4 linked regions of the Homo sapiens genome follow. The protein of the gene in region 1 purifies or fractionates together with the protein of each later gene. This does not show direct contact. Each region holds a gene or a part of one and is shown on either strand. Other genes may lie near its edges.

Region 1 (7,000 bases):
GAGTAATATTTCTCTTCTAATTCCACTGAATTATAAATTTTGTTTATATTATTCCTGGTCAGTGCTCAAGGTATGAGGAATTAATTGTAACTAGCCAGATGTTGTGTAGAGACTACACACTAGCATAGTCTATTCCTTATGTGGCCTGTTCTCCAGCTGTCAGCCTGTTTTGTTTGTTTGTTTGTTTTTTTACTTTTTGCTACCAGCCCATGTAAGTCTCCTATTTCTAAATCTTTACTTCCTTCCAGAATCTAACCAGATTTTACCAGCTTCTTGAAGAGCTGGTTCTTTCATTAGGTTTTTAATGATAAACATACTTTGTGGGATGAGAATGGCCATCCATGAATTCCTGGAGGGCAGGAACTATTCCTTACTCATCTTTATTCTCCTAGTCCAGCGTGGTACCTGGCACAAGGTCCTTAGTCAGTATTTTCAGGCAAAGATAAATTGGTGCATCTTATTCTGAACTTTGTAATAGACATGTGCAACAAACTGATCATTGTGAAAATACAACTTTTGTGATATCAGTTTTCCTTTCCCAAAACAAAGCCTTGCTTACATAACAGAAACACTTTGCAACAACTTGTATGAATTCTGTCAGTTCTTGAGTGAGCTTCCAATGGGAAACTCTATCCTTTTATTCTCCTTGATATCAAATGGTGCTATCATATTTGTATCATAACTTTTTTTTAACAACAAACGTCTGTAATTATTTTATTTAAAACTTGTTAAATTATCCTATGGGTTTAAAGAAAGGAGTTAATTCATTTTTTTAAAGATTTTTCTCTTTTTAACACCTACCTCTTACACAGAAAGACAACTCTTTTTTTATGATAAAAGGAGCCCTTGAAAAAAAATGCACACATCCTTCTAATGTATTTCTATATAGACAGGAAAAACTATACATGTGGTTTTAAAAAAATCAATGATAACTCCTCTGGTCTATAAGAATATGGTTTGGCAATCAACTTTGTAACAGAATGATAAAAAGAAATTATTGATTGATTGCGAATTCTGTTATCCAAAGCTATCTCTTTGTATTGGAAACCTATAAAAATAACCAAAGATAATTCTTCATTAGAATCCTAATATCTATAAAATCAGACTAGGAAAATTTGAGTAATTAAGTGGTCAAGAATCTTTTATTCATTTTCCTTTTTCTCATTTTCTTTTAGAACTGCCATTGGATGTCCAGAATCCCCTGTAGTTGATAATGTTGGGAATAAGCTCTGCAACTTTCTTTGGCATTCAGTTGTTAAAAACAAATAGGATGCAAATTCCTCAACTCCAGGTTATGAAAACAGTACTTGGAAAACTGAAAACTACCTAAATGATCGTCTTTGGTTGGGCCGTGTTCTTAGCGAGCAGAAGCCTTGGCCAGGGTCTGTTGTTGACTCTCGAAGAGCACATAGCCCACTTCCTAGGGACTGGAGGTGCCGCTACTACCATGGGTAATTCCTGTATCTGCCGAGATGACAGTGGAACAGATGACAGTGTTGACACCCAACAGCAACAGGCCGAGAACAGTGCAGTACCCACTGCTGACACAAGGAGCCAACCACGGGACCCTGTTCGGCCACCAAGGAGGGGCCGAGGACCTCATGAGCCAAGGAGAAAGAAACAAAATGTGGATGGGCTAGTGTTGGACACACTGGCAGTAATACGGACTCTTGTAGATAAGTAAGTATCTGACTCACGGTCACCTCCAGTGGAATGAAAAGTGTTCTGCCCGGAACCATGACTTTAGGACTCCTTCAGTTCCTTTAGGACATACTCGCCAAGCCTTGTGCTCACAGGGCAAAGGAGAATATTTTAATGCTCCGCTGATGGCAGAGTAAATGATAAGATTTGATGTTTTTGCTTGCTGTCATCTACTTTGTCTGGAAATGTCTAAATGTTTCTGTAGCAGAAAACACGATAAAGCTATGATCTTTATTAGAGAATAGAGTAAATATGGAGTGAGTTTATGTTGCTAGCTACAATAGGAAATGGTTTCATGAAGGCTCACTGTTAATGGTACATGCCTGTCTATTCCACTGACCTCAGATTCAAGGTAAGTTGTTTTACCAAGAACATGGCTACAGGCAACTTCTCTTGGCAACATAAGGACTAAGGTCAAGGAGAGTTTTCATTATCCTTTATTTGATCCTTTATCCCTTATTTGACTATCTTTAATCCATTTAGGAAGCTTGTCAGTTGATACTGCAAGGCACACCTGTACCTGTTTTGTCTTTTCCTCTGCTTTGTCTACCTCTAAATACAAAATCATAGATTGAATAACAGTGAAATTAAAGGGCATCCAAGTAGAAAAAAACATTTAACTTAAGGTTGTATATTTCAGTAGTTAAGAGCACAAAGCTTAGAACCATGATGGGCCTAGCTCAAGTTCTGGCCCAGTGCCTTACTAACTGCATGACATTGGGTAAGTTACTTCTTGAAGCCTCAGATTCCTCATCTGTAAATGGGGGGATAATATTGTTCCCACAAGGATTATCATGAGATAATGTACATAAGGCATTCAGTGTGGAGCTTTGTACTTAACAGTTGCTCAGTAGATGGTAGTATTTTTTAAAAAGTTACTTATGTGTTCTTTTTGCTTCAGGCCCTGCTAGTAAATTTAAGTATATAAACATTTGATAATCGCATTTATAGAAACCCAGTTTCGTTTAGTTCCTCAAAAATTAAGCATAAAACAGAGTGTACCTGTGAATACAAACGAATTTTTAGAGCTGTATTAAACTTTTCCATAAAATACTGGAGCATTTGTTAGTCTTCGAGAAGAATAATTTTTTGGCCAGACACAATGGCTCATACCTGTAATTCCAACACTTTTGAGAGGCTGAGGTAGAAAGATAGCTGGAGGCCAGGAGTTCAAGACCAGCCTAGGCAACATAGGGAGATCCCATCTCTGCAAAAAAAATTTAAAAATTATCCAGGTACAGTGGCACTTGCCTGTGATCCCAGCTACTCAGGATTCTAAGACCGGAGTACTGCTAGAGTCCAGGAGTTTCCAGCTGCAGTGAGCTATGATCACACCACTGCACTCCAGCCTGGGCAATAGAGCAAGACCCTGTCTCAAAAATTAATTAATCAAAAAAAATTTTTTAAATCCCTTGTACCAAATTGTAATAAAAGTTATCCTTCCCAAATAAGGAAGTAAACCACAAACAATGTTAATTTAAGCTCATTGGAAAAATGGGTGCAGAATAGACTTTGAGAGAGAGAGTTTTTTTGTTTTGTTTTGTTTTTAAAGAGACAGGGTCTCACTTTGTCACCCAGGCTGGCGTACAGTGGCGTGATCATGACTCACTGCAGCCTCAGCCTCCTGGACTCAAACCATCCTCCCACCTCAGCCTCCTAAGTAGCTTGGACTACAGGCGTGTGCTACTGCACCTGGCTAATTTTTAAAAAAGTTTTTGTAGAGCCAGGTCTTGCCATGTTGCCCAGGCTGGTCTCAAATACCTGGACTCAAGCGATTGTCGAGCTTCAGCCTCCTTAAGTGCTGGGATTGCAGATGTGAGCCCCCACGCTTGGCCCCTTGCAATATTTTAAAAGAGAGTGACATAGTTATACAAACCTCTTTGTTTTTAACTTTTCTCAACATCGAAATCTGTGTTACTGTATATAAATCTACAACTGCTTCTGACTATTACAGAGTATTCCCTTGTATGCCTGAAAGTATTATATTTTGTTACATTTTCATCTGGTGATGGTCACTTAGGTTACTGCCAAATTTTTGTTCTTACAAACAGCACTGCAGTGAACAGCGCAAATATGCATTGATTTTTGGACCTGTGTAAAAATTTATCTACAACTGTTGGGTATATGCATACTTAATTTTATTATTGCCAGATCATTCTTCAGAAATACTTGCATCAGTCAATTATATTGTTTAAACAGGCAGCACCTAATGAGTACCTGAAATGACCATACTAATTCCCATATCACAAGGTTATTCTCTGGATTAAATGACTTAAGATGATAGTTTTTGGGGCTTTTTTTTTTTCCACACTAAAACAGAGACCCACAATATGTAAACAAATAAGTGGTGAGTTCTTAAGCAGTTAGAATTGTTTAATGGAAAACATCTCATTATTGAAGTTCCCCTGAAGGACTTTTTAAAGATTTCTGGGATCACACCACTGAATTAAGGTGTATAATGCCACTTTGGAGCAATGTCTAGAATGTTAAGTAGTTCCTTAAGTTTGGTTTTGTTTCTTGTAATACCATTTTATGAAGTCTAAGCATGTAGTGGTATTTCCAGAAGAAAACTTCAAAATGAAGATGCGTATATAGGCCCTTGCTTCCATAAGTCCTCAACCGGGATTGTCGTCTCTCTTCCTGGCATTTCTCTGAGGTAAGTATGAAGGTGATGTTGACCTTCCTGGCTTGTCTCAGTTGGCACTGGGCCTCTGAGTGTAAAGCTGAGAGTAGGCTGTGATCTCCAGTTTTACTCCTGTGCTTTTACCCCAGGACACATAGTAGTCTTTGTCTGTATCCACCTGCCCATTTTGTCTGTGGGTCATTGTGGACAGTGACTGGAAATGAGCACATATGGTATACATTCATCCTTACAGGTCATAGCTCAGGTTGTCTCTTCTATCTCTTTCCTTACATTTGTGTTCATTTCTTCTGTCCCTTTTTACCTCCACACCTCCAGTTTGAATTCTTATTTGGAATTGTCATTTATTATTTCCTCAGGTTTAATGCCTTGAATTTTTTTTTCCAGTGATCAGGAACCTCCCTATTCAATGATAACATTACACGAAATGGCAGAAACAGGTATTTTTAGTTTTGTTTTCATTACTTTATAATGAATATATAATAATGAAGAAAAGTAGCCACCTTTTGTTTTTTGTTTTGTTTTGTTTTGAGATAAAAGACTCCAAAAATACAGCATACATAACAATGAAAAAAGCCCTTACTGTATGGAAATTTCCCTGAATAGGTATAATAGGCAATGCATATTATACCTTTTTTTTTTTTTTTTTTTTTTTGGCATTGATGGATCTTTCACCATACTGTTCTGGAATGGAGAGGAGATTATTTATATATATATATATATATATATATTTTTTTTTTTTTTTGAGACAGAGTCTCACTCTGTTGCCCAGGCTGGAGTGCAGTGGCACGATCACAGCTCAACTACAGCCTCAACCTACCCTGGCCCAGGTGATCACCCCACCTCAGCTTCTCAAGTAGCTAGCACCACAGGCGCATGCCACAATACCCAGCAATTTTTCTGTTGTTTGTAGAGACAGAATTTCACCATGTTGGCCCAGCCTGGTCTTGTACTCCTGGGCTCAAGGGATCCTCCTGCCTCAGCCTCCCAAAGTGCTGGGATTACAGGTGTGAGCCACAGCCCCTGGCCAAAGATATTTTTTGTTCCTTAGTTTCCTAAGTATCATTCTGAAAACAAAGCCAACTGCTGAGTATACTTCATTTTCTCAGTTAACTCCTATGTAGTAAATAAGATGCTTAAAACTATTTTAATGTGAGAGCACAAGACCATAGCTTAACCTTTTTCCAAATAAAGGTACCCACAAATCACCAGACTCCTGTAACTTAAGATGTTTTTACTCCACCACGATGACTAGCAATTGATGATTATGTCCATGCCAAATATTAGCTGCTAAAAATCTATAGACCAAAAGTCTTTCTTTTAATGTGAATTGATCTCGTGTGACATATTTTCACATTTTAAAAATAGTGACTCCATCATATAATCTTCTTGATTTGCTCTTAGATGAAGGATGGTTGGATGTTGTCCAGTCTTTAATTAGAGTTATTCCACTGGAAGATCCACTGGGACCAGCTGTTATAACATTGTTACTAGATGAATGTCCATTGCCCACTAAAGTAAGTTAATACTTATCTTTTATGAAACTATCATTTGTGCTTAAGCACAAGATAAATGACCACAAAGAACATTTGATGTATTGTGTTTCATCTTTATACATTTGGGGTCTGTTTTATTCAGTATTGATTTTGTTATGTAAATTTATTTTGTATTATGAAGAATTATGTCCTCTTTTTTTTTCTTTTCCTCTTTGAGACAAGAGTCTCACTCTGTTGCCCAGGCTGGAGTGCAATGATGTGATCTTGGCTCACTGCAACCTCCGCCTCCCGGGTCCAAGCGATTCTCCTGCCTCAGCCTCCCAAGTAGCTGGGATTACAGGCACCCGCCACCACACCTGGCTGATTTTTGGATTTTTAGTAGAAACGGGATTTCACCATGTTGGCCAGGCTGGTCTTGAACTCCTGACCTCAGGTGATCCACCTGCCTCGGCCTCCTCCCAAAGTGCTGGGACTACAGGCATGAGCCACTGCACCCAGCCCTCTGTCTTTTTATTTATTTATTTTGAAACAGGGTCTCACTTTGTCACCCAGGCTGGCGTGCAGTAGAGCAATCACAGCTCACTGCAGCTGCAACCTCCCTAGGCTCAGGTGATCCTCCCACCTCAGCCTCCCATGTAGCTGGGACCATAGGTGCATGACCCCATGTCTGGCTAATTTTGTATTTTTTTTTAGAGATGGGGTTTCATCATGTTGCCCAGGCTGGTCTTGAAACTCCTGGGCTCAAGCAGTCAGCCCACCTCAGCCTCCCGAAGTGCTGGCATTGTAGGCGTTAGCCACTGTGCCCCGCCACATTCTCTATCAAGGCTTTATTTAATTGCTTTTTTTTCTTCTTTCTTTCTTTCCCTCCCTCCCTCCCTCCCTTCCTCCCTTCCTCCCTTCCTTCCTTCTTTCCTTCCCTTTCCTTCTTGCCTCCCTTCCTTCCCCGGCCCCGCCTAGGCTAGAGTGCAGTGGCACAGTCATGGCTCACTGTATCCTCAACCTCTCAGGTTCAAGTGATCCTCTTGCCTCAGCTTCCCATGTTGCTGGACTACAGGCATGCACCACCACACCTAGCTAAATTTTTTTTATTTTTTGTAGATAAAGGGTCTCACTATGTTGCCCAGGCTGATTTTGAACTCCTGGGCTCAAGGGATCCTCCCAC
Region 2 (7,358 bases), on another chromosome or scaffold:
TGGCGCGATCTCTGCTCACTGCAACCTCTGCCTCCCGGGTTCAAGCAATTCTCCTGCCTCAGCCTCCTGAGAAGCTGGGACCACAGGCATGTACCACCACACTCAGCTAATTTTTGTATTTTTGGTAGAGATGGGGTTTTGCCATGTTGCCCAGGCTAGTCTCAAACTCCTGGGCTCAAGTGCTCCTCCCACCTCAGCCTCCCAAAGTGCTGGGATTACAGGCATGAGTCACGGTGCCTGGCCTAAAAAAAGAGTTTACAAAGGAAGAGCGGAAGGCTAAGAACTGAGTCATTAAAACCAAGGAGAGTGGTCAGCACTGCCAAATGCCACAGAGAGACTGGAGAATGTGGCCTTAGGGAGAACTGGGGATGACTGACAACGTGTCTGTGGTGTCTGAGTGTGCCATCAGAGGAAGATGAAGACACAGCCCTGGCACACACAGGGAACTCCCTCAGGAGGCCTGGCCAGCTGGAAGGAGTTATGGATTGAGGCTCAGCCAAGATCACTCCTTCGCAGGATAGCTTTGTGCTAAAATTATTAAAGCCAAACATCTGGGCCTGTGGGGTGGGATGCCAAGAAAGAGGAGGCATAAGTCCCACAGGGGAATACCAGTTTGGAATCTCAGATAAGCTGTTGAGAAAATGCAAAATGCATCTTTGCCAGGGCAACTGTCACTCTGCTGAAATATTTAGGCCTTTTGCCTCACTTTCTTCTGTTCTATGTGTGTTTTGCCTTTGGGGTACTGATTCCACTGGAGGATGGGAAGGGAAAGAAAGCGGAACTCCAACCAGGACATTTTGCTGACTTTCAGTAGTAGTAGCCTGGAGACCTGTGCAAGGGTGTGATGGACTATTTCCTGCAATCCCCTCCCTAAACCCAATTCATATCCTGTTGCTGATGGATGTGAAACCGTTCCTTTCATTTGAAAGAGGATGATGATGACCATAACTCTTTATACCTACAGCTTAAAAGCACCTTCACATGCATCAGCTCAAGCTTTCATGACTCTTGGGAGGTAGGTGTTGTTATCCCTACATGCTTAGTAAGTGGCAGAAGCCACAATTCAAACCCATTGCCTCTGACTCTGAGTCCAATGTTCTTTCAATTACAAACCAGCATGCTGATTTGTTATCAGCCAAAACTCTTCCAAAGCCCACTTAGTCCTATTCTGGCTGCACAGAAATATTTTGTTTTTTTGAGACAGTTTCACCCTTGTTGCCCAGGCTGGAGTGCAATGGTGCGATCTTGGCTCACCACAACCTCCGCCTCCCGGGTTCAAGTGATTCTTCTGCCTTGGCCTCCAGAGTAGCTGGGATTACAGGCATGTGCCACCACCCTCAGCTAATTTTGTATTTTTAGTAGAGACAGGTTTCTCCATGTTGGTCAGGCTGGTCTCGAACTCCTGACCTCAGGTGATCCACTCGCCTCGGCCTCCCAAAGTGCTGAGATTACAGGCAGGAGCCACGGCAGCCGGCCGTGCTGCATGGAAATTAACAAGACTTCAAGAGTCTCACTGCAGGCTGGGCGCAGTGGCTGACGTCTGTAATCCCTGCACTTTGGGAGGCCAAGGCAGGTGGATCACCTGAGGTCAAGTTCAAGACGAGCCTGGAAAACATGATGAAACCCCGTCTCTAGTAAAAATACAAAAAATTGGCCAGGCGTGGTGGCTCATGCCTGTAATCCCAGCACTTCGGGAGGCCAAAGCAGGTGGATCACGAGGTCAGGAGTTCAAGACCAGCCTGGCCAACATGGTGAAACCCCATCTCTACTAAAAATACAAAAATTAGCCAGGTGTGGTGGTGGGCACCTGTAATCCCAGCTACTCGGGAGCCTGAGGCAGAGAACTGCTTGAACCCAGGAGGCAAAGGTTGCAGTGAGCCGAGATTGTGCCACTGCATTCCGGCTTGGGCGACAGAGCGAGACTCCATCTCAAAAAAAAAAAAAAATACAAAAAATAGCCAGATGTTGTGGCAGACACCTACCCGCTGACCTGTGGTGAGCCAAGATCACGCTACTGCCCTCCAGCCTGGGCAAGAAGAGCGCAACTCCGTCTCTCTTTTTTTTTTTTTTTTTGATGGAGTCTCGCTCTGTCACCCAGGCTGGAGTGCAGTCGCATGATTTCGGCTCACTAAAACCTCCACCTCCCGAGTTCAAGCAATTCTCCTGCCTCAGCCTCCTGAGGAGCTGGGATTACAGGCCCGTGCCACCACACCCGGCTCATTTTTATATTTTTAATAGAGACAGGGTTTCACCATGTTGGTCAGGCTGGTCTCAAACTCCTCACCTCAAGTGATCCGCCCATCTCGGCCTCCCAAAGTGCTGGGATTACAGGTGTGAGCCACTGCACCCGGCCAACTCCGTCTCAGAAAAAAAAAAAAAAAAAAAAGAGTCTCACTGCACTAAGCAGAATTATGTAGTGAAGAGAGAATGTATGCTTGTCTTTGCTTGCTGGTGACCTTGTGCTGCACCCGCACCTCGGTGCCTTATCTATAAGATGGAGGTGAGGGCCACCTTGAAGCATGGTTCAGAGGTAAACCTATGCAAAAGTGCCAGCACAAGTACTGGCAGACAATCATTACTCAGCAGTGTTAGCAATCTTTTATTGTTCACCTTACCAGGTCTTTCTAAGCCCAAAGACCTCAGAATTGAGTCCCTCCAACTCAAGGCTTTGGTCTGTGATGAGGAACCAGAGGGGCAGGCTGTGGCAGGGCCTGACCATCTTCCATGACATCAAGCACAAAGCCAAGAGATATGCTCCAAAGTCCCATAAGATCCCTTTTCACCCTTCCTTTAGTGGCCTGTCCCAAGCATATTCCCCTTTCCCCATGAAGTAAAACTTATCCTAGAACTACGTCCTTGAAGATTCCAATATCAATAAAAGGCCCTCAGTCTGGAATTCTGGGATATAACTAAAAAGGTCTTCCTACTCCCTCTCCAAAGCCATATCCACATCCTGAATGATATTAGAAGCTTGCAAGTGGGTACATATTACAGACGCCACACTGACCCCTCCCAGCCTTCATCTTTTCAGATTCCATTCTTTGATTCTCACCCCCTGCCCCACCAACCCTACCATGTGGCAGAAGAGGCCGGCTCAGTCACCAGCACTCTCCCCCACTCCTGGAGTTTAATCTTTTTGCAGGGATCTCTTTTCTCCAAAAAGAGATCTGCACAGGGAGTGGCTCTCTGAAGCCAGTTGAGAACCTGCCCTGCTGGATTTACACAAACTGAAATCTCAAATGCCCACAGGGTCAGAGAGGTAAAGTAAATGAATTAAGAAGGGGGGCGTAATTCAGTGGAGAATGGCAGGGACTGTAGTGAACAGGAGAGCACACTTCTTATACAAATGGCAAGGGCAACTCACCTCTGCCACTGTGGGCATCCCAGCTCTTCCCATTTTCAGAAGAAGCCAGAAATCCAATTTCTTTACAGGTGAAATCTCCTGGTTTAAAAATGCTCCTTTCGAAATATTTTAAAATATAATGCTCTAAACACAAAAGTCTGCAGCCCCCTTTCCAGCAGCTTGTGGTCCTGGCCTGTGCCATGCTTTAGTGCCCTAACGATGAGCCCCAGCAATTCCCAGCGCCTCCTGCTTCTCCAAGTCTGGCCTCTTTTCCCCTCTGTACCGCCGCTTCTCCCCACTCTCCGCAGCTCGGGGTCACTTTCTTTACTGATCTCCCCTCTCTTCTGGGAGAGGCACTTGCTGAACATCTTTCCGCCCGGAGCCTCCCCAGGAGCTGCAGAGGGGCAGCTGGAGAGATGCTTTCTGACGTAGCATCTCCCACCTTTCTCCTTGGGGACCCTGAGGAAGGGGACAAGGGCTCGCTCTGCAGGTCCTCACTGTAACTGGAAAAACACGACCTCGCCCTCGGGAAGGCTTTCTGTGCGCCTCACCTCAGGATGAGGGTGGGTGTAGGGGACACCTCCCAGAAACCCCTAACCTCCCAGTCGGTTAAAGAAGAGGGGATAGGGTCAAGGGATGCGACAGAGCTGTGTGGTTTCCGGATGGGAAACCTCAGTCGTTTAGGCACCCCTCCGCTCGAGTCACTTCCGAAGCAGTCGATTCTTGGGGAGAAGCGCTGCGGAAAGGGGCGACTCCGATGCAGATGGCCCTGTCCCGGCGCCCCAGGTCGTCGCGCGCGCAGCTGCGGTAGTCACTGCGCCTCCCCGCCCCCACTCCTGGATGCCCCCCTTCCCTCTCCCGGCCAGACTCTGAGCAGGAGCTCCGCCCCCAGCGCGCCGCCCCAGCCCCGGCGCCTTAAAAGCCGGGCGCACCGCCCCGCCGCGCCCTGCCTGCCGCACCTCTCCTTTCTTCTGTAGCTCGCGTTGAAGCCGCACGTCCGGCCCCGATCCCGGCACCATGAGCTTCGGCTCGGAGCACTACCTGTGCTCCTCCTCCTCCTACCGCAAGGTGTTCGGGGATGGCTCTCGCCTGTCCGCCCGCCTCTCTGGGGCCGGCGGCGCGGGCGGCTTCCGCTCGCAGTCGCTGTCCCGCAGCAATGTGGCCTCCTCGGCCGCCTGCTCCTCGGCCTCGTCGCTCGGCCTCGGCCTGGCCTATCGCCGGCCGCCGGCGTCCGACGGGCTGGACCTGAGCCAGGCGGCGGCGCGCACCAACGAGTACAAGATCATCCGCACCAACGAGAAGGAGCAGCTGCAGGGCCTCAACGACCGCTTCGCCGTGTTCATCGAGAAGGTGCATCAGCTGGAGACGCAGAACCGCGCGTTGGAGGCCGAGCTGGCCGCGCTGCGACAGCGCCACGCTGAGCCGTCGCGCGTCGGCGAGCTCTTCCAGCGCGAGCTGCGCGACCTGCGCGCGCAGCTGGAGGAGGCCAGCTCGGCTCGCTCGCAGGCCCTGCTGGAGCGCGACGGGCTGGCGGAGGAGGTGCAGCGGCTGCGGGCGCGCTGCGAGGAGGAGAGCCGCGGACGCGAAGGCGCCGAGCGCGCCCTGAAGGCGCAGCAGCGCGACGTGGACGGCGCCACGCTGGCCCGCCTGGACCTGGAGAAGAAGGTGGAGTCGCTGCTGGACGAGCTGGCCTTCGTACGCCAGGTGCACGACGAGGAGGTAGCCGAGCTGCTGGCCACGCTGCAGGCGTCGTCGCAGGCCGCGGCCGAGGTGGACGTGACTGTGGCTAAACCAGACCTGACCTCGGCTCTGAGGGAGATCCGCGCCCAGTATGAGTCCCTGGCCGCTAAGAACCTGCAGTCCGCGGAAGAATGGTACAAGTCCAAGTTTGCCAACCTGAACGAGCAGGCGGCGCGCAGCACCGAGGCCATCCGGGCCAGCCGCGAGGAGATCCACGAGTATCGGCGCCAGCTGCAGGCGCGCACCATCGAGATCGAGGGCCTGCGCGGGGCCAACGAGTCCTTGGAGAGGCAGATCCTGGAGCTGGAGGAGCGGCACAGTGCCGAGGTAGCTGGCTACCAGGTAAGGGCCGGGGCTGGGCGTGGGGAGGGGTGCCCTGCCCTCTTCCGCGCGTACCCTCTTCCTCTGGTAAAACTGGGCCCCAGGACTTAAGGGGAGGGCAAAAGAGAGGAGAGAAGAGCCGCGGCTGGAGGCGCTGGTTAACAAAAAACCCTGGAGTCTTTAATGTTAATTTTAGGGAACGCCCCTCATTTATGTCCCTGCCCCAGCCCTTCAAACAAAGAAGCCCTTAAATTTATTTGAGGTTCGAAAACCCAACTCTGCCTGTCTGTCAGCAAGCGGGCCTACACACACCGGCGACCCGGAGAACAGTGCCCCACCCAAAGTAAGACTGAGCCCAACGGGGCAGGTTACGTGGGCGGTGCTGTCTCGGCTATCTGGCTTGTTTGGTTGACTTTGAAAAGCTTTCTGTGCGCCCTAGAAGTTATTTATGGAGTATGGTCTGCTTCAGGGCTGAAGGAAGAATGCGATCCTGAACTGGGAAGAGTCCTATCCCATTTTCTTGACTTTCGCGCTCCAAAAAGTAGAGATTGGGAGCCAACAAGCTGAGCGATGCTTGAGCTAGTAGTAACCACCCTGCTCTACCCACCTCCCCAACACACACACACACACGATTCCCTTGTCCACCAGCACACACACACACACACACACACACACACACGATTCCCTTGTCCACCAGCTGACATTTCCTCCTTAAGAAAGCGTTCGCCGGTTGGCAAAACGTGAAAGGTCGGGGCGCTGTCCACGGTGCTGATCTCGAGTTCTTCCCATCTCAGAAATTATGTCTCTCCTGTCTCGTGTCCCAGTTATGAATCTCTAGGCAATTAACTGCTTTGATTTTTTTTTTCCTGCAACACCAACACATCAGTCTTGGCTACCTGCAATCAAAGGTCACCTCATAGACAACATCAGTTTTGGCTTTCATGGATGGCTTAGCACTAAACAAAAAACACTTAATTTGCTCAGCAGCTGTGAGGTCCCACTTGAAAATTCCTGTTTTGTTAGTATTTTTTTCATTGTAAGTGCATGTGATAAGTCACAGAGATGGTTTTTCTTTGTTCTAGTGTATGTATTTTTTCCATATTTCCCTGTCCTCTAAGCTCCTGTGATGGTATTGATTGGCTATTTCTTCCCAACAAAGGCCACTGTGTCTTCAGTTTTACTATATAAGAAATTCTGGGATTATGACCGCAAATGGCACAGAGGCAGGGGACAGGGTAAATGGAAGGTGTAGAAAAGAATTGGAATAGTGTGGTTCGGTTTCAAGGTACAATAAAAGCTCCTTTGAATAGAATGACTATAATTCAGAAACTTGCAATAATTCTAGCTAGGATTAAAGTTTACATTTGGTGAGATTAATAGGGCTTGGAACATTGGTAAAATAGAACCAAGAAAGGAATGAAATCTCAAAAGTAACATTTTAATCAGAAGCTAAAGAATTCTTATTGATGTGCAGGTATTTGCTGTTTGTTACAATAACTTCCTTTGATAAAGGAAAAAAGCCTGCTTGGACTGTTTAGGTTAGTTTGGTATTGCATTATCATTCAAATAAGTACTTCCATTTCTGCCTCAAAATCCATAACTTGAACTTTTCATTATGTACCCTAACCCCTGGATGGCCTGAATTAATCACATTTGGCTAATTGAGACTTCATTTTTTTCTTCTAGAAGCCTCCAAGTACGAGCTAGGTGGTCTTCTGGAGGGCTAGCCCAGTATTTCTACAAAAAAAGGATAACTTACTCAGAGCTGCCAGCTGAATTGGGCTTCTCCATTTTCTCTGCTTGTTATAGCCCATACATTCTAAGAAGTAGTGACAGTTTTGCCTGGCTTGTTTGCTGTAAAAGGCTTTCATCATTAGACAATGGTAGCGTCATCCAGACATGGTCTACAGGAAACAAACAAAAAACAACAACAGAGAAACTGCAGCATCTGCAG
Region 3 (7,084 bases), on another chromosome or scaffold:
GGGCCGCGGGGACACCGACGGGGGCAGCAAGGCAGCCTCCATGGATCCCCCAAGAGCCACAGAGCCTGGTAAGACCCTCTCCCACTGCCTCCTCATGGTCCCCTTGCCACTGTCCCTACCCTGTGCCTCCAGGAAGTCCTCCTGACTTCACTGGAAAGCCCTCTCCTCTCCCTGGGCCACCCTGGAGGCCCCTAAGACTGGGGACAGCCGAGGGGACAGGTGGTGGCCGCTCAGCCCTCATCCCTCCCTCCACTCACTCCAGCTCCTCCACTGTAACCGCAGGCCCTGCCCTCAGTGCTGAAGCAGCAGTCCAGCCCGCTGGGCTCCAGAGAGATGAGGCCAGGCCCACTGACCGATGCCCTTGGGCTCAGAGGGTGCTAGAGGTGGCAGGAAAGGCAGGCGGCAAGGCCCTGGTGGGAGGACCCCATTCCTGGGGTGGCTGCCTCAGGGTGCTGGGAATGGCATGGCCCAGTGTCCCCCACCCTGCCACAGTGTAGACAGACCAAGGACGCTGAGGCCGGGTCCTGCTCTGAGACATCAGAGGAGGCTTTCTGGGGAGGAGGTTTTGCAGGGCGTTCAGGTAGACAGCGGAATGGAGGAGGCTGCACCTGGGCTGGCTCGGGGGCAGGGTGCCTGCCCTTCACTGGTGTGTCCCTCCATCCAGTGGCCACCAGTAACCCTGCAGGAGATCCCGTGGGCAGCACGCGCTGTCCCGCCTCTGAGCCCGGCCTTGATGCTACAACAGCCAGCGAGTCCCGGGGCTGGGACCTTGTAGACGCCGTGACCCCCGGCCCTCAGCCCACCCTGGAGCAGTTGGAGGAGGGTGGTCCACGGCCCCTGGAGAGGCGTTCTTCCTGGTATGTGGATGCCAGCGATGTCCTAACCACTGAGGATCCCCAGTGCCCCCAGCCCTTGGAGGGGGCCTGGCCGGTGACTCTGGGAGATGCTCAGGCCCTGAAGCCCCTCAAGTTCTCCAGCAACCAGCCCCCTGCAGCCGGAAGTTCAAGGCAAGATGCCAAGGATCCCACGTCCTTGCTGGGCGTCCTCCAGGCCGAGGCCGACAGCACAAGTGAGGGGCTGGAGGACGCTGTCCACAGCCGTGGTGCCAGACCCCCTGCAGCAGGCCCAGGTGGGGATGAGGACGAGGACGAGGAGGACACGGCCCCAGAGTCCGCACTGGACACATCCCTGGACAAGTCCTTCTCCGAGGATGCGGTGACCGACTCCTCGGGGTCGGGCACACTCCCCAGGGCCCGGGGCCGGGCCTCAAAGGGGACCGGGAAGCGAAGGAAGAAGCGTCCCTCCAGGAGCCAGGAAGGTAACTCAGGGAGGGGCCCCGGGCACCGTCCCACGCCAGGGCGCTGGCACCCAGCCGGTCCCTCCCCTTCCCCATTGGGCACTGCAAGTTCCAGCGGCACCCAGGAGAGGTGACTTGGGTGCGGCACGGGAGAGGAGGCGGCAGTGCGTCCACCGCAGGGCGGCTATGTGGGCTGCCGCGGCCCGTGCAACTATTCCTCCAACCTACTAATTCCGACCTTCACGCCACCTCCGTTAGGGAGTAGGGGGCGGACACCGGGCACCAGGTCCCAGGCAAGTGGCTGCCATGTGGCTTAGTGGCCAGAGAACCGGGCAGCCCTCAGAGGGTGTTGGCATGGCTGTCCCGGGCCCCCCAGCCCCACCCACTCCGAGTCAGGGTTGCTTCTGTGTGATAAGCCGTTGAGTGCGTTTCTTTTATTTGGAAGCAGAGGTTCCCCCTGATTCTGATGATAATAAAACAAAGAAACTGTGTGTGATCCAGTAAGGTATGTACGCAGCCGGCGCTCCGTGGGGGCTAACAGCAGCTGCAGGGCAGTGGGGCTGGAGCTTGCTGCCCACACCCCTCCGGGACACTAACCTGGCTTCTCTCCAGCCCGCGTGGTGCGTCAGTGTGGCCTTGCCGCTCCCGCAGCCCTGGTGGTGGGCTTCCCGCCCCATCCCCTCCCTCTCCGCAGGTTACCTGCTCAACTGGTGCCTCCTGCAGGCAGGACGCAACCTCAGTGCTGGCCCCGGGCATGCGGGCCTCGAGAGGGCAGGTGGCAGGGCCAGCCGGACTCCCTTAGCAAGCAGGATCCGGGCCCTGGGGCGTGGGCGGGACCTCCTGGCTGGCAGGACAGGCTGAGGTTGCTCCTGTCTGGTGTCCTGGCGCTAACTGCAGTTCCAGTAACCCTGTGGCTTTCCTGCTCTGTCTGTTGGTGGAGGGCTATCTTCACTCTAAGTGTGTCAATGGCGTGGGGCCTTCTGGGGCATGTCCCCAGGAAGTCTGTGAGGAGACCGGGACAGTCGCAAGGGCAGATGCTGCCAGGGACAAGTACACTGCAACCCCCCTCCTGTTGGACAGTGTCCTCCCACCCCGAGGCCATGGGTGGGTCTATGGAGAAGCAGATTACCCCCCGCACACCGAGTCTTCTGGGGGGCGACCAGCCAAAGGTCAATCAGCCAGGTCCGTCCACAGGGCTGGAGAGGCCAATGCATCCAGCTAGACAGGACCAGCCTGCACTGGGTGGAGGAGGGGCTAGAGCAGAGAACCAGAAGGTCCAGCCCGGCCGATCATGAGCTCTGTGAGCCCAGGTCGTGGCGTCTTCCAGCACCTCCAGCCTTGCTCAGAGCCAGCCCGGTGTCGGTGCATCACAAATATGCTGACCGCTGGGCCTGGGGCTTAGGCTCAAGGTGCACACCTGAGGTCTGCTGGTGCCCATCAGAGGCAAGAGCAGTCGTGACCCCGGAGAAGCTTCTCCGGACAGCTTGTCCTCGCTGTTGGGGCACGGCCTTCACCCTGGGTTCCAGCTTTTGCTTCCAGGGTCATCTTCCGAGTGTGGCTCTCTGGTGTGAAGCACCCACGTGTACTTTTTAGAAAGGTGCTGGCATCTCCCTTAGAGGCTGGAACTTGGACTTGCTGGCCCTGAGTGTGAGGAACAGTGGAGCATGCAGGTCTGGGGCGGGCGGCCACATCTGACAATGGTCCAGTGAAAGATGGACGTGTCCAGTGCCAGCTCCACGCTCCACCTGGTTCCCTCCTGAACCTGCTACACGTGCTTAGCCTCCACCCGCCCCAGCTCCTGCCACGCACGTGGCTGAGGGCAAGAGGAAGAAGTCCTCTTCTCTCCCCAACTTTTTATTTTTTATTTTTTTTCAAGACGGAGTCTCACTCTGTTGCCCAGGCTGGAGTGCAGTGGTGCGATCTGAGCTCACAGCAACCTCCACCTTCCAGGTTCAAGTGATTCTCCTGCCTCAGCCTCCCGAGTAGCTGGGACCACAGGCACACGCCACCACGCGCGGCTAATTTTTTGTATTTTTAGCAGAGACAGGGTTTCACCATGTTGGTCAGGCTGGTCTCGAACTCCTGACCTCAGGTGATCCACCCGCCTCGGCCTCCCAAAGTGCTGGGATTACAGGCGTGAGCCACCGTGCCCAGCCCCCACCTTTTTATTTAGAAAATCTTCAACACCACAGGAAACTGCATAGATCAGAATGAACAACACCTTCTCCCCGAAATTACAACCATTTGCCAAAAATACCAAAATTGTGACCATTTTGCTACATTGCCCCCCTCCAACTGAGGCATCTGAGAGTTTCTTATAAACATCATGGCACTGGAGCCCTAAACTCGCCCACAGACACCTGAGAGCACAGCCGTCTTCCTCAGTCCCCCCCGGGCAGGGTGCGCTGCCGTCCTCCCAGTCCGCCCCCACCGGGCAGGGTGCGCTGCCGTCCTCCCAGTCCCCCCCCCGGGCAGGGCGCGCTGCCGTCCTCCTAGTCCGCCCCCCCGGGCAGGGTGCGCTGCCGTCCTCCCAGTCCCCCCCGGGCAGGGTCCGCTGTGGGGCGCTTCACGTCCACATGCTTCTAATACTCGGTCCCAGTGCAGATGTGCCACTTGCCCCAATAATTCCTTCTCTAGTTGTTGCTTTGTTGTTTTTGCAAACAAGATTGTATCCAGAGTCACATGCTGTGTTTGGTTATCATATCACTTCAGTCTCTTTTGTTCTAGAACATTCCTGCCCCTTTTTGTCTTGTATGACATTGACGTTCTGGAAGATAACTTCACTTTGGGTTTGCCTGATTGCGCCCCCAAGTAGGTCCAGGTTGAGTTTTGGGGCAGGAGTTCTACCCCAAGGGATGCCATGTCCTCCCCAGCTGGGTGGGGACGTTTGTGGCAGCAGCGCTGACCACGGCTGCGGGGGTGGTTTCTGAACCTCCACTGCACGAACACCACGCTGTCTGGTTAATAAGCACCGGTGGTGACCTGTGGAACCAACCGCTGCAGCGCGGTTCTGTGTTCGCCGCCCCTCGTCCGAGCGTTCCCCCCTCCCCTCCCTTTTTCCATCACGTGAGTTTTGAACGTGCAGTAATCCTTCACTGCCACTGCCGTGCATTTGATGGGGACCAGCGGGGGCCCTGAGCGCTTCCCATCTTTGGCACAAGCCCCTGTTCCTAGCTCACCCCAGACTTGCTGATCCCCCCATCCCTGCACGGGCCTTGGTCTTGGCCATTTCTCCAGGTTCCCTGAGTGGGGAATGGTGCTGAGACCCTCCTTTGAGTGATTGTTTTGGATAGTTTTTGTTTTCTTGCTGTCTGTTTAGAGTAGTGGTTCTCAAACCCTGCTTGGGCCATCCCACTGGGGAGCTGGGACACCACCTGGCACTGTGGTGGCAGTGGGGGTGACACTCAGACAAGGGCCATCGAGGGCCCCTGGACCAGAAAGCGAAGAGGGCGTTGGGGGCAGGAGGCCTGTGGGGCCATGTGTGGGGGCCGTCTGGGTGGCGGGAGCTGTTGGGGCAGGGCTGAGCGCCCTCAGCAGCCCACTGGAGAAAGCGCTGCTGGGGTCCTCGTGTGGGGCCCAGGGCCCGACGTGGAAGCAATGGAGGGCTGCAGGGGGTGGCAGTGGGGATGAATGAGTAAGGACAGAGTGCAGCCTGGGTCTCAGACAGGGGGTGGGGGACAGGCCACAGAGATTCCCTATCTCAGCAGAGAGGAGACAGGCTCAGGCTGCCACGCCTTGCCAAAACCCAGCCTGGCCAGGCCAGCCCGGCACCTTCCACCTAGATAAGTTGTGCTGCTCCAGAGAAAGAGCCTGGGGTCAGAGTGGACCTGCGATGCATGGCACAACCTGCTGGACAGTGGCGATGAGGGGTTCAGGGACCTGGGCACCCAGAAGCGGGCACCTGATATTGTACCCAGCAAAACTGCTCCTAATAATGTCATTTTTTCTCTCTCTTACAGGCCTCAGGCCCAGGCCCAAGGCCAAGTGAGAGAGCCCAGGCCACAGGACATGCTGCCATTCTGCCAAGAGAGGCTCTTCTGGGGGCCAGGCTGGGACTGGGCCCCGGAAACCAAAACTCCGTGCCTTACCCAGCCGGGGCCCTCCTGGAGCCTTCTTGGGGTGTTGTGGCTGGGAACCCGACAGGCACCAGTGCCCTGCCAGGCCTGGTGCCCTCCTGGACCGCCTGCACGTGCCAGCCTCCCACCTGCTTCCTAAAGGCAACCCTGGCCCACACCCGCATGCGCCCGGTGCAGCCTGCCAAGGGCCAGTCGGGGGGTGCTGCGTCCTGCCAGTGTCCACCACAGCTCTGCCTGCCCTTCAGCCCAGCAAGGTTTAATCAAAATGCAATGCTTTGCAAGTCTTTACTGCTTGGAGGTGGCTGAGTTGGGGGCCCTGGGCAGGGGTAAGCTGGCAGGCAGTGCCATGGCAGGCCAGGGTCCCCTCCCATGGGGTCTGGCCCCCGTTCCAGCATGTCCAGCCCCTGAAGTTGGAGTGGGGGGCGGTCTGCCTTTGCTGCCACTGCCAGGCCTCTGCCCTGCAGCTGAAACTTGGCCATCACATCAACAGAAAACCCCTCCCAGTGCCAGCTGCCCAGCGTGGGCAGGCCCTGGGGACAATACAGGTCCACCTGAGGGGCTGCAGGGTGACACCCAGCAGCCGCTGCCCCCTCACTGCCCACCCAGCGAGGGCAGCCTACCCGAGCCTGCCCCCTGCCAGGTGTGTGCCCTGAGGCTGGCGGCTGGATGCGTGGCCAATAAAAAGCAGACCTAGCCCGGTGTGCGACTGTCGTGTTCAGAGGCTGCGGGAGTGGGCGGTGGACGTGGGCTCCCACAAACATGGTGAGCGCTGGACAGGCCCCGTGTGAACACTCACTGTTGAGGGGCCCCCAGGCCCCGTGTGAACACTCACTGTTGAGGGGTCCCTGGGCCCCCAGGCACCGTGTGAGCATTCACTGTTGAGGGTCCCCCAGTCCCCCAGGCCAGGGGCTGTCCCTGGAGCCCTCAGGAGGCAGTAAGAAACATCTAGAAGAGGGCAGACCCAGTGGTGAACCGCATCCAACAGTGGTGAGATGGGTGCAGCTCTACAGGGGCGTAATTTACAAACCACCAGACTCCCTGGTTATGTGTGTGCTGCGGTGGTGTTTGCTCTCCAGCAGATCAAGTTTGTGCAATGATCCATTTTGAGAATCTCTCCGTCACCCCAAGAAGTCCTCTCGCACCCATCAGTCCGACCCCTTCCCCGTGCTCCTCCCCAGCCCTGGCAGCCACTCACCTGCACTCCAGACGCTCCAGATGTCATGCATGTCTCCTGGCTTCCTTCGGCTGTTTTCACGCGCCATCCTCACGGCAGGCTGTATCAGGACTTCATTCCATTTCATGGCTGAAGCACATTCCATTGCATGCAGGGACCACATTTTGTTTGTCTGCTCTTCTGTCCATGGACATCTGGGTTGCTTCCAGTTTGGGGCTTCTGTGAATCCTGCTGCTGTGGACATTTGCGTAGTCCTCGTGTGGATGCTGCTGTGGACGTCTGCGTCGTCCTCGTGTGGATGCTGCTGTGGACGTCTGCGTCGTCCTCGTGTGGATGCTGCTGTGGACGTCTGCGTAGTCTCGTGTGGATGCTGCTGTGGACGTCTGCGTCGTCCTCGTGTGGATGCTGCTGTGGACATCTGCGTAGTCTCGTGTGGATGCTGCTGTGAACGTCTGCGTAGTCTCGTGTGGATGCTGCTGTGGACGTCTGCGTAGTCTCGTGTGGATGCTGCTGTGCACGTCTGCGTCGTCCTCGTGT
Region 4 (7,443 bases), on another chromosome or scaffold:
AAACTTCAATCTCCTGTCCCATTAAAACACTCTTCATTACCTGCTAGCCAAGGCTTGGCCCCAGGTCCAAAGGCTGGCACTGGGGAGAGGAATGCTCTGCTCTTTGCACCCACCCCCACCCCTGTGGCCCCCTCTGAGGCTTATTTCCCCGCTGTAGGAGAGAGGAAGACACAGGGGTAGGTGCCACTTACCTAGTGTTACAGTCAACCTCCCTCAGACGTGAAGCTCCCTTGGGTGTGGTGACACCCAAGCCGGCTGCACCATGGGGGCTCCGTTTGTGGGGTCCTCTTGGCCCACAGAATCTCACCTGTCTCCTCCTGTGCCCCTCTCCTTTCCCCATTCATCTCTCTCCAGGCTCTGTGTCCCTTATTCAGTGAGGCTAAGAGAGTGGATGAGCAAGTCCTCCACCCTAAAAGACAGCCGGCCTGGAGCGGGATGCCAATGTGTCCTTTGGCAGGCCCTGCCTTGAGGAGTCCTTCCTTGGGGAGGCTGCACCCACTCTCCTTGGTGGGCATCATCCTTGCCCTCTGAGCAGAGGAGGGAAAGCCACAGCCTGCCATCCTGGACTGGCCACTCCACACTCCAGTGCTGCTGGTCACAGTCTCCTCACATTCCGCTTGCCTTCTCTAATGCAGACTTCGGTGGGGAGAAGGCCTTCAGGGTGGGGGCTGGCAATTTCCTTTAGGCTGTGTGTGTGCTACTCAGAGGCCATTATTTTTAGTTTCAGAGCTTAGACACAAGTTCATTCAGAAAGTCTTTATCAAACACTCTGGGACGGGTGTGGTGGCTCACGCCTGTAATCCCAGCACTTTGGGAGGCTGAGGCAGGTAGATCACTTGAGGCCAGGAGTTCGAGATCAGCCTGGCGAACATGGTGAAAACCCCGTCTCTACTAAAAAAAACACAAAAAATTAGCTGGGCATGGTGGCACAAGCCTGTAGTGCCAGCTACTCGGGAGACTGAGAATCACTTGAACCGGGGAGGCAGAGGTTGCAGTAAGCCGAGATCACGCCACTACACTCCAGCCCAGGTGATGGAGCGAGACTGTCTCCAAAATAAATAAATAAAATTTTAAAAAATTTAAAAATTAAAAATACAAAAACATTATTCCAAGATCCCTTACCATCTGGTCATCTTCTTCTGGGATTAACTCCAATCCATCAAGGTCCCTTTTAAAATATAGTGTCCAGTACAACACTCCAGATGTGGAGGGCAATGGGAGTGTTGCCATTGCTCATCTGGACACCTTGAATCTATAGTCACTTTTATCCTTTTCACTTTTTTAGACAGCCACCCAGTATTGGTTTCTTCCTAACAAGCTTGTAGTCTTCTAAAACCCCCAGCTCTTTCTTCTTTGCTAGACACTCCCTACTCTTCAGCCGGTCTTTATTCTCCTCTTCTTATGCTGTTGATTTTTTGAAACCAAAAGCAGAATTTTACACTTATCCCTATTAAATGTCATCTGTTTTTTTTTTCTATTTTGCTAAAATATAACTCTCAGTTCTTGCATAGTCTGTAGATCTGATAAACATGGCTTCCATGTTTTCATTCAAGTCTTTAATTAAAACTTTTAATTGTCAGGACCAAGGACAGGTTCCCTCGGGGCAGCACACAGAACCCACTAAGCTTGCTCATGGCCATCTCTGGGGATGACTGCTGGGCTGACTTTGTATCCACCAGCTGTAGTACCACATAGTTCATATGTCCTGGGTCCAGAGACCCAATAAAAGGTACGGCCAATGGCCCCACAAACATCCCAGTAACTAAATGCAGTCACCAGGGAAGGAGATGAAGGGAGGGCCTAAGTTTCTCTAGGGAGGGCCTTATTTCTCTAAGTACCTCAAATATCAGGTATCTGTTTAGAATCTGGTAAGCACTGACGTCAGATCCTCTAGGTTGTGAATGCTGGAACCTACCATCTCCTGTTTTAGGAAAATCAACACCACACTCTTCCCCAGAATTCTTAACAATCTCTATTCCCCATAATTCCTAAAACTCACAAGAGTGATTCACAAGAGGAGGTTTTCTTTAGCTTAATGGCTTTCATTGTGACGGTCCTCAAAAAAGGCTTTATACAAAGACTTCCCTATACCTGGTCTTATTTGATTATCAGAACAAACTTATAGGGATAGGTGGGTATTAACCTGCTTTGCCAAATAGGTAAACTCAGGCTCACTTAGAGAAGTTATGTGATTTGTCCAATGTCATTCAGTTAGAAAGTGCAAAAGTCAGCTAATCTTTGCATGAGACACAGTTCCAAATGTCTCCCCTTTGGGTGAGGGTGAGGGGTTCAGAGAGGAACCCCCAGCCCAATGCCACCCTACCTCTTTAGGGGACCGCCCCCAAGAATCCCAGGGGATCTCAAACATTTAGCATCCCTCTCCTCCCAGACAGAAAGTGAAAGAAAGAAGGAGGTCGGGTGCAGTGGCTCATGCCTGTAATCCCAGCACTTTAGGAGGCCAAGGCGGGTGGATCACCTGAAGTCAGGAGTTCAAACCAGCCTGGCCAACATGGTGAAACCCCATCTCTACTAAAAATACAAAAATTAGCCTGGCATGGTGGCAGGCATCTGAAATCCCAGCTACTTGGGAGGCTGAGGCAGGAGAATCACTTGAACCGGGGAGGCGAAGGTTGCAGTGAGCCGAGATCACATCACTGCACTCCAGCCTGGGCAACAGAGCAAGACTCCCTCTCAAAGATAAAAATAAAAATAAAAGAAAGAGAGGAGGAGATTCCAAGCAAGCTCTGCTGGCCACAACTCTGGGGAGCCCTCAGCCCAAACCAAACAGCAGGATTTATGAGGTAATGCAAGGTTGAAGGAGCCTGGGCATCCCAGATCCTCAGCCTCCCGGCCTGCACTGACTCTCAGTCAATGTCCTGTCACTAACCCCTCCCTGGCCTCTATTCTACATATTGGTGGTGAATTCCAAAGCCCCATTGGCCTGGGGACAGGGATGGGGTCCTTGAGAGACTCCTCAAGGGGAGGGGATATTGGAGGGATGACTTCCTGGTTATTGACCCGGCTGTACCCTCTACTCAGAAAACCCTCTCCATCCTCTGTGCTGCCTGGCTCTGTCCCCAGCACCTTGGAGGCTGATTAAGTATTGTAGTCATCTTTTTATGTTTACCTCCACCAACAGACTATGAGTGCCCATCACTGTTGACCTCACATCACCAAACTATAAGCATTTCCAGGGCTGGGACAGAGTTCCTGCAATCTCTTTGGTGCTGACACATAGTAGGTACTCAATTAACACTTGAGCTAAATTGGATTTAGCAGCTTGATCAGAAACGCCTTCCCCAAAGATCCCCTCCGTCTCATTATCCCTGCATCTCCTCCCCAGCCCTACTTCTCCTTCACTGTAAATCCCCCAAATCCCACCTGTCCTTTACCTCCCAGCTCAAGGATGCACTCCGTCCAGAAAGCCTTCCCTACTACTCTCACCCTTGGTGAGCTCTCTACTTCATAAACTGTAGAATCTTTAAAAGGTTGTTTTGAAGATTAAGTCAGATCATGGAAGTAAAATATTGGAACACGACTGGGCACATCATAAAGGCTGGATAAACTTGGGCTAGTCGTTAGGAAGGAAAAGAATGGCCTCTTCCTGCTGCTTCCACTTCTGAAAGCCGCCAGAGGGCGTCCACTACCCAACATTCCCTGGCAGGGGGTGCGGGAGAAGGGGCCCTTCCCCAAGAACAGAACTTCCTAAAGCGGATGTTTGAACCTCGCAGTTATACAGAAGACTTGTAGGAAGGATGGACAAACGTTCTTAAGCCCATGACGGCCCTTAACCTGGTCGCTCCCTTTTCTGATGGAGACTCAGGCAATAGCGTGTGTGCGTGTGTGTGTGTGTGTGTGTGTGTGTGTGTATCCGTGTGTCCTAATATCAGACATTTGTTCTTGTTTTCCAGGCAGCGTCTCTCTAGCTTCTTTCTGCAATGCTGTAGTACTCTCTCCAGTATTTCAGGAGGAGGAGCATTTGCTATTTCAAAAACGAAAAACAAAAACCTGGCCACATCCATTTTTTTCAGCAGCCATGCGATTTCCATCATTGCTCACATTTTATGGATGAGGAAACTGAGTCTTAGAGGAATTCAGTAAGTGATACCTCTCTCGGATGTGTTGAGTAACTGAGACTGCACTCCCTCCCAGGCTGGAACGTCCTGGTACTCCCACCCCCACAGGCTCAGTTCTGTGCATTATCTGCCTTTTTCGGGGATTGTGACCCTTCTTCACAGCCTCCTCCCTCAGAAAGCCACCACCATCAGATCCGATTCTCCATGGTACAGCTTCTTCTTTGGTTCCACTCTCCAGCACCCTGGGGAAGCAGGAACAGAGGCTGCTGCCACTCTCTGACCTCTAAGGGGTTAAGGCCTGGGTCCCGCCCCTCTTCCCGCCCGCCTGGCGGGAGTATGAATAGCCTCGCTCCCACTCCCGACTCTCAGTCGCTCAGGCTACTCCCACCCCGCCCCGCCCCGTCATTGTCCCCGTCGGTCTCTTTTCTCTTCCGTCCTAAAAGCTCTGCGAGCCGCTCCCTTCTCCCGGTGCCCCGCGTCTGTCCATCCTCAGTGGGTCAGACGAGCAGGATGGAGGGCTGCATGGGGGAGGAGTCGTTTCAGATGTGGGAGCTCAATCGGCGCCTGGAGGCCTACCTGGCCCGGGTCAAGGCGCTGGAGGAGCAGAATGAGCTGCTCAGCGCGGAGCTCGGGGGGCTCCGGGCACAATCCGCGGACACCTCCTGGCGGGCGCATGCCGACGACGAGCTGGCGGCCCTGCGGGCCCTCGTTGACCAACGCTGGCGGGAGAAGCACGCGGCCGAGGTGGCGCGCGACAACCTGGCTGAAGAGCTGGAGGGCGTGGCAGGCCGATGCCAGCAGCTGCGGCTGGCCCGGGAGCGGACGACGGAGGAGGTAGCCCGCAACCGGCGCGCCGTCGAGGCAGAGAAATGCGCCCGGGCCTGGCTGAGTAGCCAGGTGGCAGAGCTGGAGCGCGAGCTAGAGGCTCTACGCGTGGCGCACGAGGAGGAGCGCGTCGGCCTGAACGCGCAGGCTGCCTGTGCCCCCCGCTGCCCCGCGCCGCCCCGCGGGCCTCCCGCGCCGGCCCCGGAGGTAGAGGAGCTGGCAAGGCGACTGGGCGAGGCGTGGCGCGGGGCAGTGCGCGGCTACCAGGAGCGCGTGGCACACATGGAGACGTCGCTGGGCCAGGCCCGCGAGCGGCTGGGCCGGGCGGTGCAGGGTGCCCGCGAGGGCCGCCTGGAGCTGCAGCAGCTCCAGGCTGAGCGCGGAGGCCTCCTGGAGCGCAGGGCAGCGTTGGAACAGAGGTTGGAGGGCCGCTGGCAGGAGCGGCTGCGGGCTACTGAAAAGTTCCAGGTGAGGAGGTTGAGGGCCTGGGTGAGAGAAAGTCCCAGAAAGCTCCAGAAAGTCCCTTATGAAGCTCAGAGACCTTCTGGGAAGGGAGTGGGGCTAGCTGGCTGCTGAATCAGGAGCCAGTTCTCAGAAACCTGGTGCCACAAGTCCTAGACTTTTACAGCCCGTCTAGTGTAGGATGCGAATGGTGGGGCTTCTCGAAGCACATCCCGGGTGGGCAGTCAGGCCCAAGACCCGTTGCAGCAGCCCCGCCACTCTCTGGATGGCACCTTCTGGCTCTGATGATGACCGGGGCTCCGGGTCCCTTCCCAGGCTCTGGTATTACTAGGAGGACACCCAGCACTGTCGCCTCTGCGCTGAATCTGGTGGCCTGGCCACTCAGAATCACCAAGTTCCTCACAGCCCTCCTTCTCCTGAGGGGAGGAGTGAGGGGCCGTGAATGAATGGCTACCAGCCCCCTCCCATGTCATGGCTTCTCGGCTCCCTGGAGCACATTCCAGAGGCCCATAACAGCTGCTCCTTCTCACAGGGCACAGATGTGACCAGCAGCTGAGAAAACAGCTTCTTGCCTGGGCCACACAGAGGTGCCATGGCCACCTCCCCATCCCTCCTCTCAGAGGAGACAGAATCCAGAACATGTGGGAAATGGGGGTGGGGCGGGGGTGAGAGCCTGCTGTGAGGAGCAGGAGACAGTTGTGGGAGATGGGACCAACGGGGGACGGGGGCTGTTTGCCTTCCAGTCCTGCAGGCTCCAGGCATCTTGATTAATCGTTTTTCCTTCTGCTTTCGCTTTTTTTTCCCCCTCTTCTCTCTCCATAACCCATCTCGTCTCCTCCCTCACCTCCCCTTCCTGTGGGAGCTGTGTTCTGAGCAACATGTGCTACCATTTAATCAGCATCCTCAGAGGAGGAGCAGGCCATGGGAGAGAGCTGAGAGTGCTGACAGGGGCCCTGGGCTCATCTTGGCTGATCCAGAGGGGGCTCTCTGGGCAGGGAATAGGGTAGGGGAGGCGGGGGTCTGCTACACAGATAAGTCAGCCAGGGAGCAGGAGGTGCTTCCCGGGCAGCGGCAGCGGGCAGGAGGCAGGTTGGTTCACAGAAGGGACCCCAGCCCCTCCACTGACTGCCTCTCGCCTGCCCTGCAGCTGGCTGTGGAGGCCCTGGAGCAGGAGAAACAGGGCCTACAGAGCCAGATCGCTCAGGTCCTGGAAGGTCGGCAGCAGCTGGCGCACCTCAAGATGTCCCTCAGCCTGGAGGTGGCCACGTACAGGTACGAGACGAGCCCTGTCCACCCAGGCACACAGAGGCACACACACATGCTGGGGCAGACTACGTGGCTGAAGGGGACCAGAGGTGTAGGTGATGGCAACTCTGCTGCCACTGGGTTCTGTGACTCTAGGCTGGTCACTTCCACACCGGAACATGTCCTGCCTGAAACCGTCTGCTCCCCCATAGGCTGGAGACCTGAGCAATGTCCTGTGCCCAGGAAATCCCCCCAGGAGAGATGATATTGCCGAGCGGGACAGCCTCTGGAGAGGGGCTGGGCCCGTGTGGGGCAACTGCATCCAGACCCTTCCCCCAAGGGGCAAAGCTCCAACTCTATGTGTGCCCGCACCCAGGGGGTCATGTCCTTTGGCAGCCACGGAAAGGAGGCATTGCAGGCATGGGGTGGCTGCACTGACTTGCCACCTGACCTGGGCCTCAGCCTCGTCTAGGGGCTGAGGGCTGGGCTGGGGGACTTCCAAGGCCTCTTCTAGCCTGGATGTCATGGGGCGAGACTCCTCTGATGCCCCTAGTGCCCTTGGTCCTGCCCAGCCTTTCATTGTCCACATTTTCTGTTATCCTAGAAATGGCTGAGACCAAGGAGGGGTGGCTTCTCACTTGCTATGTGGCCTTGGGCAAAGCCCGCAGTCTCTTCTGGGAAACTGGTCCTGTTGGCTGAGGGGCCATTGATGGGGCCTGAGGAAGGGGCTCTGTGGCTGGTGAGGGGCCACATGAGATCCAGGAAAGGAGGAGAGGCAAGGCCCAGAGATGGAAGGTCAGTGAGGCTCTGGGGAGGACGTGGAGGAGAGGGGCTC

The links.
Region 2: the proteins of RSPRY1 (region 1) and INA purify together in Homo sapiens (affinity purification with mass spectrometry; 2 studies listed by BioGRID and IntAct, with this or other methods). This does not show direct contact.
Region 3: the proteins of RSPRY1 (region 1) and INF2 purify together in Homo sapiens (affinity purification with mass spectrometry; 2 studies listed by BioGRID and IntAct, with this or other methods). This does not show direct contact.
Region 4: the proteins of RSPRY1 (region 1) and NES purify together in Homo sapiens (affinity purification with mass spectrometry; 2 studies listed by BioGRID and IntAct, with this or other methods). This does not show direct contact.

Annotation. Positions count from the first base shown.
Region 1 is NC_000016.10:57,203,329-57,210,328, forward strand, and holds part of RSPRY1 (RING finger and SPRY domain-containing protein 1 isoform 1 precursor), read left to right. Parts: intron 1-1,175; 5' UTR 1,176-1,330; coding exon 1,331-1,680; coding exon of another isoform or gene 1,681-1,684; exon of another isoform or gene 1,685-2,053; intron 2,054-4,264; coding exon of another isoform or gene 4,265-4,357; intron 4,358-4,729; coding exon 4,730-4,782; intron 4,783-5,746; coding exon 5,747-5,859; intron 5,860-7,000.
Region 2 is NC_000010.11:103,272,852-103,280,209, forward strand, and holds the start of INA (alpha-internexin), read left to right. Parts: upstream 1-4,286; 5' UTR 4,287-4,360; coding exon 4,361-5,425; intron 5,426-7,358. UniProt on the Homo sapiens protein: Class-IV neuronal intermediate filament that is able to self-assemble. It is involved in the morphogenesis of neurons.
Region 3 is NC_000014.9:104,713,539-104,720,622, forward strand, and holds part of INF2 (inverted formin-2), read left to right. Parts: coding exon 1-68; intron 69-664; coding exon 665-1,318; intron 1,319-1,745; coding exon 1,746-1,801; 3' UTR 1,802-1,802; intron 1,803-4,024; coding exon of another isoform or gene 4,025-4,108; intron 4,109-5,256; coding exon of another isoform or gene 5,257-5,285; 3' UTR 5,286-7,084.
Region 4 is NC_000001.11:156,674,408-156,681,850, reverse strand, and holds the start of NES (nestin), read left to right. Parts: upstream 1-4,443; 5' UTR 4,444-4,586; coding exon 4,587-5,369; intron 5,370-6,510; coding exon 6,511-6,635; intron 6,636-7,443. UniProt on the Homo sapiens protein: Required for brain and eye development.